2 separate regions of the Homo sapiens genome follow, and region 2 is linked to region 1. Evidence: fine-mapped expression QTL. A gene starts in region 1. The other region holds a variant in brackets. All regions are shown on one strand. Distances are between the middles of the regions. Region 1 holds the start of ALMS1 (ALMS1 centrosome and basal body associated protein). Region 2 overlaps ALMS1 (ALMS1 centrosome and basal body associated protein).

The links. PIP is the estimated chance that this variant, and not a neighbour inherited with it, causes the effect.
Region 2: its variant is the best candidate, but not a certain one, in a credible set for the expression of ALMS1 in blood mononuclear cells (TOPMed, PIP 0.83).

What each region holds. Positions count from the first base shown.
Region 1 is chr2:73,383,597-73,388,983 of GRCh38, forward strand. ALMS1 (ALMS1 centrosome and basal body associated protein) reads left to right here and starts at 2,240. Exons shown (of 23, transcript NM_001378454.1): 1 at 2,240-2,596. The coding sequence starts at 2,273. LOC105374804 (a long non-coding RNA gene) reads right to left here and starts at 2,085. Exons shown (of 4, transcript XR_007087053.1): 1 at 1,857-2,085. RefSeq lists enhancers at 1,999-2,748, 2,789-3,028 and silencers at 1,999-2,398, 2,559-2,728.
Region 2 is chr2:73,563,108-73,568,494 of GRCh38, forward strand. The region is part of intron 15 of ALMS1 (ALMS1 centrosome and basal body associated protein); the gene reads left to right. Among named protein-coding and RNA genes, the nearest start is that of NAT8, 77 kb to the right of the region's middle. The variant A/G (reference allele first, on the strand shown) is at 3,191.

The DNA.
Region 1 (5,387 bases):
AGATAAGGGTTATCTCCCCGAGAAATCAATTTGTTAGTTAATCAAGGGTGTCAAAATGCAATAAGCAAGATTAGTGGTAGGGTAAGAGATGCCAAGGAATCAGAAATTAATCTTGTCCTGTTGTCTTGGGTATAAACTGCCCATTTCTGCAGTAAGCAGCTTCTGGGGAAGTCCCAGGAATCTTCAGTTTGAGGTCTTCCAATAGTATGGGATGTCCGGTAGCCAGGAGAAAATGATGCATGTCTTTTTAGTTGTGTAATATGAATCCAGGGATCAATGTCTTCTAGTTTTACTCCTGGGTCAGTTGTTGATAGTACCTGACATTTTTTTTTCTTGCATTGAGGCTCAAGGGAAATTGTTTTCTAATGCTTTTTCAGAAGACCAAATCTCTAACTTCAGAAGCTGCTTAGGTGGGTGCTTTGAGAATGCAGCTTCCATCTGTTGTTGATAAAGCAGGAGTTAATCTTAGAAGTCTCCTGCAGCAATTAGTGATAACAGCTTATATTAGTAGCATCTAGTATTGGAAGTAATTCACAAATACATGAGGAAGCCTGTTATTAACTCAGAAGGAGATAACTTATGGGCCTTAGAATGGACTGACCTTATTGCCATCAAGGCAAATAGAAGTACTTTGGGCTTTGGAAGTTAGATGGAAGTTAGAGAACTTTGAAAGCTATTTTTTAGAATTCTATTAGTTCTCTTTATCTTTCCTGAAATTTGTGGATGCAAAAAGATAGCGGAGTTTCTAAAAAGGTAAAGCTTTACAGTTATTTAATATCAGTGAAATGTGTGTCCTCTTACTGGAGATAAACATTGAGATTTCACATTCAGGAATACAAAATTAATAAATTCTTTTCTACTATTACAGTAATAGGTCTCCGGCAAGGAGAACCCCTAAACCCCTTAAGAATAAATAACCCTAATGTACTCATAGTCCATTTAGAGGTGTTCAACAGAACTCCAAGACTGGGCTCCAGTTCATGTTCTACCCTTAAAGTTTTGCCAGGATTGGGTCATTGACAGGTAGGCAGGACATACATCCTTGGCAATAACCCTAAAATTGCCCCACCAACATTGGTTCAGCATCATTATCAATGTATCTCTACTATTGTGGGTAATACCATGAAGACTTTTTGCTGGACTCCACTTTAATTATGGCTATTTCCTTTGGTAACAGTGAAGCATCTCAAGATTATAATTATTATTTAAAATTTTAATTTAAAAATTTTCCCCATAGGTTATTGGGGGTACAGGTGGTGTCTGGTTACATGGCATCTTAAGATACTTTAATTTGCCATTCATTTCGTAGAGGTTCCTGAAGCGGTCAGGAAATCTTTGTTTTTAAAGCACTCCAAAGTCATTGACGAACCACCAAAACATATGTACTATCAGTATAAATATTTGCTCTGTTATCCTTTAACAGCTGGTTGGTCTAGGCCAGGGCAATTCCTACACTAACAGAGGACCTGGGATGGCATACTGAGTCAGCCACTTACTAGGTAAGAAACTTTGGGCAAATTAATTTTTTTAGCCTCAGATTCTTCATACATGAAATAGTAATACTTGTCTCACAGAACCGTGAGCATCTAATGAGTTATTGTACAATAACCAACCTATCACTAAGTCCTTCACATTGATTATTTCCTTTAATTATCACACCCATCCTATGCGATGGCCTATTATCATCGTTTTATAAACACAAAGTCACACCACTTTAAGTGGTGATGCCAGGATTCAAACTCCGATCTTTCTGATGCCAGTGCCCAGTTCTTAATCCCTCTAACAACCCGTGACACTTTTCCACGGTTAGGTTCAAGCGCCCACCATACAGCTTGACACTTTAGGAGATACTCAACCTTTAAAACTTTATAATTTGCATGTGTGATTATAACGGGTACGTCCTAGAGTTTGATCTCTTCTCTGTGCAGGGGCGAAACTCGACCCCAGCCGAGAACTACACTGTCCTTGCGCGGGGCCCTCTGCGCCCCGGAAGGCGCCCAGTCCCGGTTTATTGTGAGCTTACAGTACAGTTCGCAAGGTCCCGGCCGGTGACGGCGGCGAGGCGGCAACGTCGCCTGTAGCAAACCTCCGCCCTAAGGCGTTCCCGCCGGGCCTCGCGCGGCGTCCCTAGCAACGCGCGCGCGGTCTTCCGGCCCCGCCCAGGCGGGCGGCACTGCGCCTAAGCTGGGCCACAACCGCCAGTCAGGGCTCTCCCCTTCCCCTCCCTCCCCCCCTCCTCCTCCTCCTCTGCCGCCCAGAGCGAGACACCAACATGGAGCCCGAGGATCTGCCATGGCCGGGCGAGCTGGAGGAGGAGGAGGAGGAGGAGGAGGAGGAGGAGGAGGAAGAGGAGGAGGCTGCAGCGGCGGCGGCGGCGAACGTGGACGACGTAGTGGTCGTGGAGGAGGTGGAGGAAGAGGCGGGGCGGGAGTTGGACTCCGACTCTCACTACGGGCCCCAGCATCTGGAAAGTATAGACGACGAGGAGGACGAGGAGGCCAAGGCCTGGCTGCAGGCGCACCCCGGCAGGATTTTGCCTCCGCTGTCGCCCCCGCAGCACCGCTACTCGGAGGGCGAGCGGACCTCCCTGGAGAAGGTGAGGCGGGCCGGGGAGGGGTGTGGAGCCGCGGCGAGTTGGGGGTGGAGGCTGGGCCCCGAGCGCTCCGCCCGCCCGCAGGTCACGCCGCCTGACGGAGAAAACGCGCGCAGCTGAGGCTAGTAGGCGGCCCAGACTCCAGCCCAGGTGCCGGCCGGCTGCTCCGCGTCTCCCAGGCTTTGTGGCAAAGACTTCTCGTTTCCTCCCCCTCGGTGGGTCCTGGGCCTTTTGAACTCCCGTAGACGTTCAGGGGAGCCTGCATTCCCCGTGAGAAACGCTGAGAGAGGACCACGGGTGTGTCGAGCCTTGAAGGAGGGAAAAGGCGGTGTAGGACCGGAGCGAGTGGTTGCCTGGGGAGCATCTTGTTGGGGAGACAGTGAACAGATGAGCTTGACTGAATTGCAGGACTCCCCTGAGGGAGTAATGTGGATAATGTACACCGCGCGATCACTTAGTCTGGAGAGGCTCCCCGCGGGTTTTCCTCCCCTGGACCATCATTTGTAGCAATAAAGGGGTTCCCCAGCCGATAGGAGGGGCTTGGAATGCAGGAGGCTTGTGATGCGGCTCCAAACAGTCTGCAAAACTACAAAGCACAGATAATACACAATGGAGAAAGCCGATTTCATGGTAGACCCCCGAAGATCATTTTGAAAATAACTCTCCATTTAATTTGCTGCCCTTACCCCCCTTTTTTTAACTTACTGCTTTTCGAGGAGCAAGACCTGCCCTGCTCAGTACAGTAGCCACTGGCCACGTGTGGCTTTTTACATCTTAAAGAGAAAACTATTATAGTTTTGAGTAAGAGTTAAAAATAAATTAAATGAAAAATTCCATGCGTCTGTTCTTACCGGTTTTCAAGTGCTCAGCAGCCACACTAGGCTAGTGGCTACCATGTTGGACAGAGCAGATAATGGAACAGTTCCATCATCACAGACAGTGAAGGTGTAGAGTTTTGTCACTAATGAGCAGTAGTTGTTGTTTTGTCTGGTGAATATTCCAGGGGGTACTTAATTCATTGAACATGTATTATTAGAATTCACCATGTGCCACACATTGTGCTGGGTGCTAAGGAAAGCTTGGTGAACCCAAACATTTTTGGTCTCTGCCTTCCTTGTGTTCATGGTCTAGACAGGGAGGCAGACAGATTTCAGATGATCACATAAAGTGAAACTAATATATGTGCTAATATTCTATGAAAGCATAAAGTAAGATAATCTGGCCTTGTCAGTGAAGTTGGGAAAGCCTTCTTGAGGAGGTTATGATAGAGCTGATATCTGAAGACAGTTTAAGGTTAATCAGGCAAAGGGGAGGGAAAGAGCCGTCTAGCTGAGGGAAAAACACATGAAAAGGTACTGTTGATGAGAGAGAGCATGGCATTTTCCAGGACCCAGAAGCCAACGTGGTTTGAGCACAGACTGCAAGGCTTTGTGTGCTATGCCAAGGATTTAGGGGCTTTATCTCTGGAGCTTTGGGGAGTTGAAGAAAATATTTGAAACGAGGGGATGTATGATAAGTTAGGTGTTTCAGAAAGGTCAGGTGTATAGCAGAGTGTGGAACAGCTGTGATAGCAAGGTGGGATGGGGAGCAGTAGCCATAGGTCAAGGGCATAAATTAGGAGACCATTGCAGCATTGCCCGGCAAAAGATGATGAAAGTTTGGAATAGGGAAGTGTTGGTGGATACAGGGAAAAGTGGACTGATTTGAGAGATATTTAAGAGGCAAAATCATCATACTTAATAACGGATGGGATGTGAAAGGTGAAGTAGCCAGGTGTTAGGTTATTGTTTGAATGGTTGTGCCAATATTAAGATATGGCCAGATTTATGGTGGAGGTGGTGGCTGTGAGTGGGTGGTGGAATTGGTTGGGTGAGTCTTAAGATTATGAGTTTGGTTTTGAAGATTGAAGGAGAAGGCTGGGCTAGAGATTTCAAGTTGTAAGTCATTTACATAGAGACCATAATTAAAGCCACACTTGTTGACTAGGTCTTCTAACTTTTATTTTGTCCTGTGACTTCTTGCTTGAATAACTATTAATATTCAAACTTTATCTTGAAGCCTAGAGGAGGAGTTTTTTAAACAAAATTTTAATTTAATTTTAGATTTGGGGGTACATATGCACGTAATTAACATGGATATATTGCATAATGGTGAGGTTTGGGCTTCTAGTGAACCTCTCACCCAAATAATATACCTTTGTACGTGATAGTGTAACATTGTACTTGATAGGTAATTTTTCAGCCCTTCTCTCCTCCTTCTGGAGCCCCCAGTGTCTGTTTATTTCCATCTTTATGTCTGTGGGTACTTATTGTACCCATTTATCTTTATGCCTCTGTGTACCCATTGTACCCACTTGTCTTACCAGTGAGAGCATGTGGTATTTGATTTTCTGTTTCTGAATTGTTTCACTTGATAAATAGCCTCCAGGCTCCATCCATGTTGCTGCAAAGGACAGGATTTCATTCTGTTTATAGCTGCATAATATTCCACAATGTATATTAATACATACTACATTTTCTTTACCCATTCAGTTGTTGATGGACACTTAGGTTGATTTCATGACTTTGCTATTGTGAACGGTGCTGTGATAAACATATGAGCACAGATTTTTTTCTTTTTTTTTAATGGCGTCTAGCTGGTGTAGAACACCTGGGCTCAAGTGATACTCCGCCTTGGCTTCCCAAAGTGCTGGGATTACAGGTGTGAGCCAGTGTGCCTGGCTCAGATGTCTTTTTGATGAAATGATTTAATTTCCTTTGGAGAGATACCCAGTAGTAGGATTGCTGGGTCAAAT
Region 2 (5,387 bases), 180 kb after region 1:
AACTTCTTGGATTATATTAAAAAACAAACCCAGTTCCATGCTATATAACAAACATATCAAAAGTAAAATTACTGAGAAAGGTGGAAAGCAAAAAGAAAACTTAGAGATGTATCAAAAAGAAATTTGGGGACATTAATATAGATGAGGTTAAATTCACCAAAAGTTTTGCAGGAATTGAAGAGGTATATTTTTATACTGATTTGCAATCCACAATGAGGATATTTTGCATAAATCTTTAAACATCAAATAACTTAGCATAAAAAATTCATAAAACGAAAACCAGGAGCTCAATCAATAAGGAAATTTATGTTGCCTTAAAAAAGAATGAAGGAGGGCAGGGTGCGGTGGCTCACGCCTGTAATTCCAACACTTTGGGAGGCTGAGGCGGGCGGATTAAGAGGTCAGGAGATCAAGACCATTCTGGCTAACATGGTGGAACCCCGTCTCTACTAAAAATACAAAAAAATTAGCCGGGCGTGGTGGCAGGCGCCTGTAGTCCCAGCTACTCAGGAGGCTGAGGCAGGAGAATGGCATGAACCTGGGCGGCAGAGCTTGCAGTGAGCCGAGATCACGCCACTGCACTCCAGCCTGGGTGACAGAGCGAGACTCCATCTCAAAAAAAAAAAAAAAAAATAAAAATAAAAAATGAAGGTATGGAATTATATGAAAACAACTCTTAGGATGGATTGTGAGGCAAAAGGTGCTTAACAGGGGGATTGGACGGTGGAATTTGCTTGTAGGGAGAAAAAAAATAAAACAGACAACCCTAGGAAATCTTCAAAGAGAAATGGACAAATACAAAATAATACTGGGGAGCTTGAACACACATAATTAGCTTATGACAGATCGTGGAGATGAAAATTTTTTTTGTAAGTGAAGTTTAAAAACACCTGGGAATAATACAAGTAATGAGGTTGATGTGGGGTGTGTGTGGCTGTGTGTGTGTGTCTGTGTGTGTGCATGCATGCATAAGCCTATATGGGTTAAACTTAAAAAAAAAACCCTTTCCAAAAGACCATAGAAAATTTTTTCATACAGCTTTATTCAGATATAATTTACCCATTTAAAATATGTAAGGCTGGGCACAGTGGCTCATGTCTATAATCCCAGCACTTTGGGAAGCTAGGGTGGGTGGATCACTTGAGATCAGGAGTTCAAGACCAGCATGGTCAACATGGCGAAACCCCGTCTCTACTGAAAATACAAAATATAGCCGGGCATGGCGGTGCATGCCGATAATCCCAGCTATTCAGGAGGCTGAGGCAGGAGAATCACTTGAACCTGGGAGGCAGAGGCGACAGTGAGCCAAGATCGCGCCACTGCACTTCAGTCCAAACGACAGAGCAAGACTCCGTCTCAAAAAAAAAAAAAAAAAAAAAATCAAACATGTAATTCAATGATTTTTACTGTATTCACAGATAAGTGCAATCAACCATCACCATAATCAATTTTAGAATATTTTCTTCACTTCAAAAAAGAAACCCTGAGACTTAAGCAAATACTGATCCACTTTTTGTCTCAGTAGATTTCCCTATTCTGGACTTTCATACAAATGGGACCATTAAGTTGGGGACATAACATGAAACTTAGGGCCCGCCCATAATGAAAAATGTTAAAGGAAATTCCCATGTAAAGTAGGCCTCCAGTGGGCTACACTCTTACTATAAGAATAAAAGATAAACACGTCCATGTAGAAGGGGACAGTAAGAAAACTGCCTGTTTTAACCTTGATAATGAGTTTGGGGAAAGAAGACAAAATTTATCCTCAGAATTTATAACCACAAACTAGTGTTCACACAGATTTACAGTCATTAATTTTGTACTGGTATAATTTATTAGTGCAGTAAACTACAGGTGTGTTCTGAAAAATCTCAAGCCGAGAATTTAACAATGGCAGTAGGTTGGTATTGCAGACTCACATGCCTTTCGGATGCAAATGCACATCTCTCTGAAGAAACTTCAACCCAGACCTAAAATACCCTAAATTCCCTAAAATACCAAGCTCATAGTCAAGGCACTATTAGTAGAAACAGTATCAACAACAAGAAACAGAAATGAGACCCACAATTACAAATGTCCAGGATTCCTTGGCAAAATGCCTGATTCTCAGACTGGGACAGGAGATATATTAGATGAGCCTGAACCCTTTTGTGGTGCCAGAAAGTAAAGAAAAAAAAATGCACAGGGATGGGGAATATGTCAATGGAACACAGGGACCAAGTAAAAAACTTCCCAGTGGCTAAAGCTGGGACAGTTTCTGTAGTATAGCAATAGTATTAGATCATAACCAAAGTATAAAATAAATACCTATGAGTCTGTACTGATAAAAGTAAATGATTTAATAAATAAATGGGGGGAAATGACAAATCTGTGCAGAATTCTAAATAATGTATGTAGATATTCCACCATCAGGGAGGTGGAACATAACTCCCACTCTTAACTAATGGGTTGCACATAGTAACTTAACTTCCTTCCAAAGAGTGTATTTTTATAGGAAGGGGGAAAAAGAATAACTATATAGTGAAGAATTCTGGCAAACACTGGCTCAGCCGGGTCATCAAGATCATCATCAATAGTGGTAAGTCATGTTGATAGTATGTACCCTTAATATGTAATGAGAAATATATTTTAACTTTGAAATCTTCTTCCCAAAAACCCATAACCCCAGTCTAATGAGAAAAACATGAGACAAACTCAAATGAAGGACATTTATACTTGACCAGTACTTCTCAAAACTGTCAGAGTCATGAAAAACAAGGGATGCCTAAGAAATTCTCACAGACCTAAGAGAAGCCTAAGGAGACATGATAATTAAATGTAATGTGGTGTCTTGGATAGAATCCTGGAACAGAAAAAGAACAGTATGTACAAAACAAGGCAACACAAAGTATGGCCTTTGGTTAATAATAATGTAACTTTATTGATTGATTCATGGTAATATATTGTATTAATGTAAGGTGTTAATAGGGGAAACTGGGTATGGGGTATAGGTAATCATCTGTACTGTTGTCACCGTTTTTCTGTAAATCCAAATTATTCTAAAATTAAAAGTTTATTTTAAAAAATTAATGCATTCTGACATTAAAACAGGTGGATAGATAAATGATAAATAAGAAATTTCATCTTCTTAAAGAAAACACTTTACAGCTTCTCTTTGGCATAACCAATTTGCTGGCGTTACTGCTCTTGC[A/G]CTTTGGGGCCATTACTAACTACAGTTAGGGTTACTTGAACACAGGCACTGCAGTATCATGACAGTCACCCTGATAACCCAGACAGCTATGAAGTGCCTAAGGGGCAGGTAGTGTAAATGTACGGACATGCTGGATAAAGGGAGGATTCACATCCTAGGGTGGGATGGAGCAGGATGACAAGAGATTTCATCATACTACTCACAACGACGTGCAATTTAAAAATCATGAATTGTTTCTGGAATTTTCCATTAAATATTTTTGGACCATGGTTGACTATGGGTAAATGAAACCTTAGAAAGCAAAACCACAGATAAGGGGGACTACTGTATTCACACCTAATGTGTGGGGTTTCCCCTCACGTTAAGCAGTTCTGACACTGACAACCTGTACTTAGCACAGTCCCCACAGGTTATGGGTTCAGTCCCACAAGACTGCCCACCACTTCAGATACCAATTGCATGGCTTGGCCTCCTATACTTCTGACCAACTAGCTCCAAATTGGGGTGGTGGGGAGAATCCCATGACCCCCTCCTCAGGTTTGGTAATTTGCTCGAATGGCTCAGAAAACTTAGGGAACATTTTCTTACATTTCCTGATTTTTTATGAAGGATATTTCAAAGGATACGCACGAACAACCAAATGAAGAGATACATGGGCAAGGTATAGGGAAGGTGCACAGAGCTTCCATGTCCTCTCTGGGCCTGCCATCCTCCCAGCTTCTCCTGTGTTCACCAGATGTGAAGCTCTTCAAACTCTGTCTGTTAGGGTTTTTATGGAGGTGCCATTACATAGGCAATATTGATTAAATCATTGGCCATTGGTGATTGGCTCAACCTGCAGTCCCTGTCCCCTCCCCAGAGATCAGGGGTTGGGGCTGGAAGTTCCAGCCCTCTAAACATATGGTTGTTCCCTTGGTAAACAGGCCCCCCATCCTAAGGGGCTTTCCAAAATTCACCTCATTAATGTAAACTCAAGTGCAATCAGAAGTGACTTGTTTTGAATAACAGACCCTCCTTGAACCTTTATCACTCGCTCTTGAACTGTTTCAAGAACCAAGTACAAAAACCAAATGTCATAATAAAAGATGCCCCTATTGCTGTTATCCCGTTTTCCTAAATGGAAATTACAAGAGTTTTAGTAGTTCTGGCCAGGAGCTAGGGTTAAGGCAAAATATGTATTTATTATATCACAGTATTACAATTTACAGGGTATTTAAATGAATTATACAGTGATAATAGTAAAAGGATGCTACTGGGACAAGAGACTGATACATCAGTGAAAATACTTAAATACAGTGGGCACTTACTCTATGATAAAGGTGCCATTTCAGATCCATTTGTAAAAAGATGGATTACTCAACAAATAATGCCAAGATGCTTTGCTAGCCATTTAGAGTATCGTGAGAATTTTAAGTTGTAGCCCTACTTTACTCCTGTCACCAAAATGCAAGTATAAAAGATCCAAGTATAAAAAAGAGATCATAAAAGTTCTGGTTTTCTGACTTTTCTAATAAATTTGAGCAGAAGAAGGCTTTCAAGGTCTGACAAAATCTTGGAGTCATAAAGCCAAAGATTTGATAAATGTATATATTAAAATTAAAGTGTCTTCATGGTAGAAAATATCATAATGCAAAATCAATTTATAAATGAATAATGGGAAAACAATTTTAAAAAATTGAGAAACTGAGAAAAGGGGCTAATTTTCTTACTATGCAAAGAGCTTTTTACAAATCAATGACAGCCTAAAAGGAAAACAAAGGACCTGAACAAAAAGCTTATAGTAAAAGAAATGCAAATGGCCATTAAAGATATGAAGAAATACTTAACTGTCTTAATAAAGAATGTACTAAGCCACAAATTTTGTTTTACCTGTCACAATAGCACAGATGAAAAGATTTGATTATCCTTAGTATTGTTGAGTACATGGGGAAACATTCATGTACTCTTATAAGACTATTATTAGAAGTGCAAATTTGTTGCAACATTTTTGAAAGTGTGGAACAATTGGATGATATCTAACTAATGTTGAAATAAATATTCCCTTTTCACCCAGACTTCCATTTAAGGGAATAACAGATACACAGATAAAGTTGTACCTAGAAAAATAAAATGAAGCTACACATAAACGCACAAACAAATGTTCACTGCAGCATGCTTTGGAAGAATAAACTATTGGAAACAACCTAAATATTTAGTT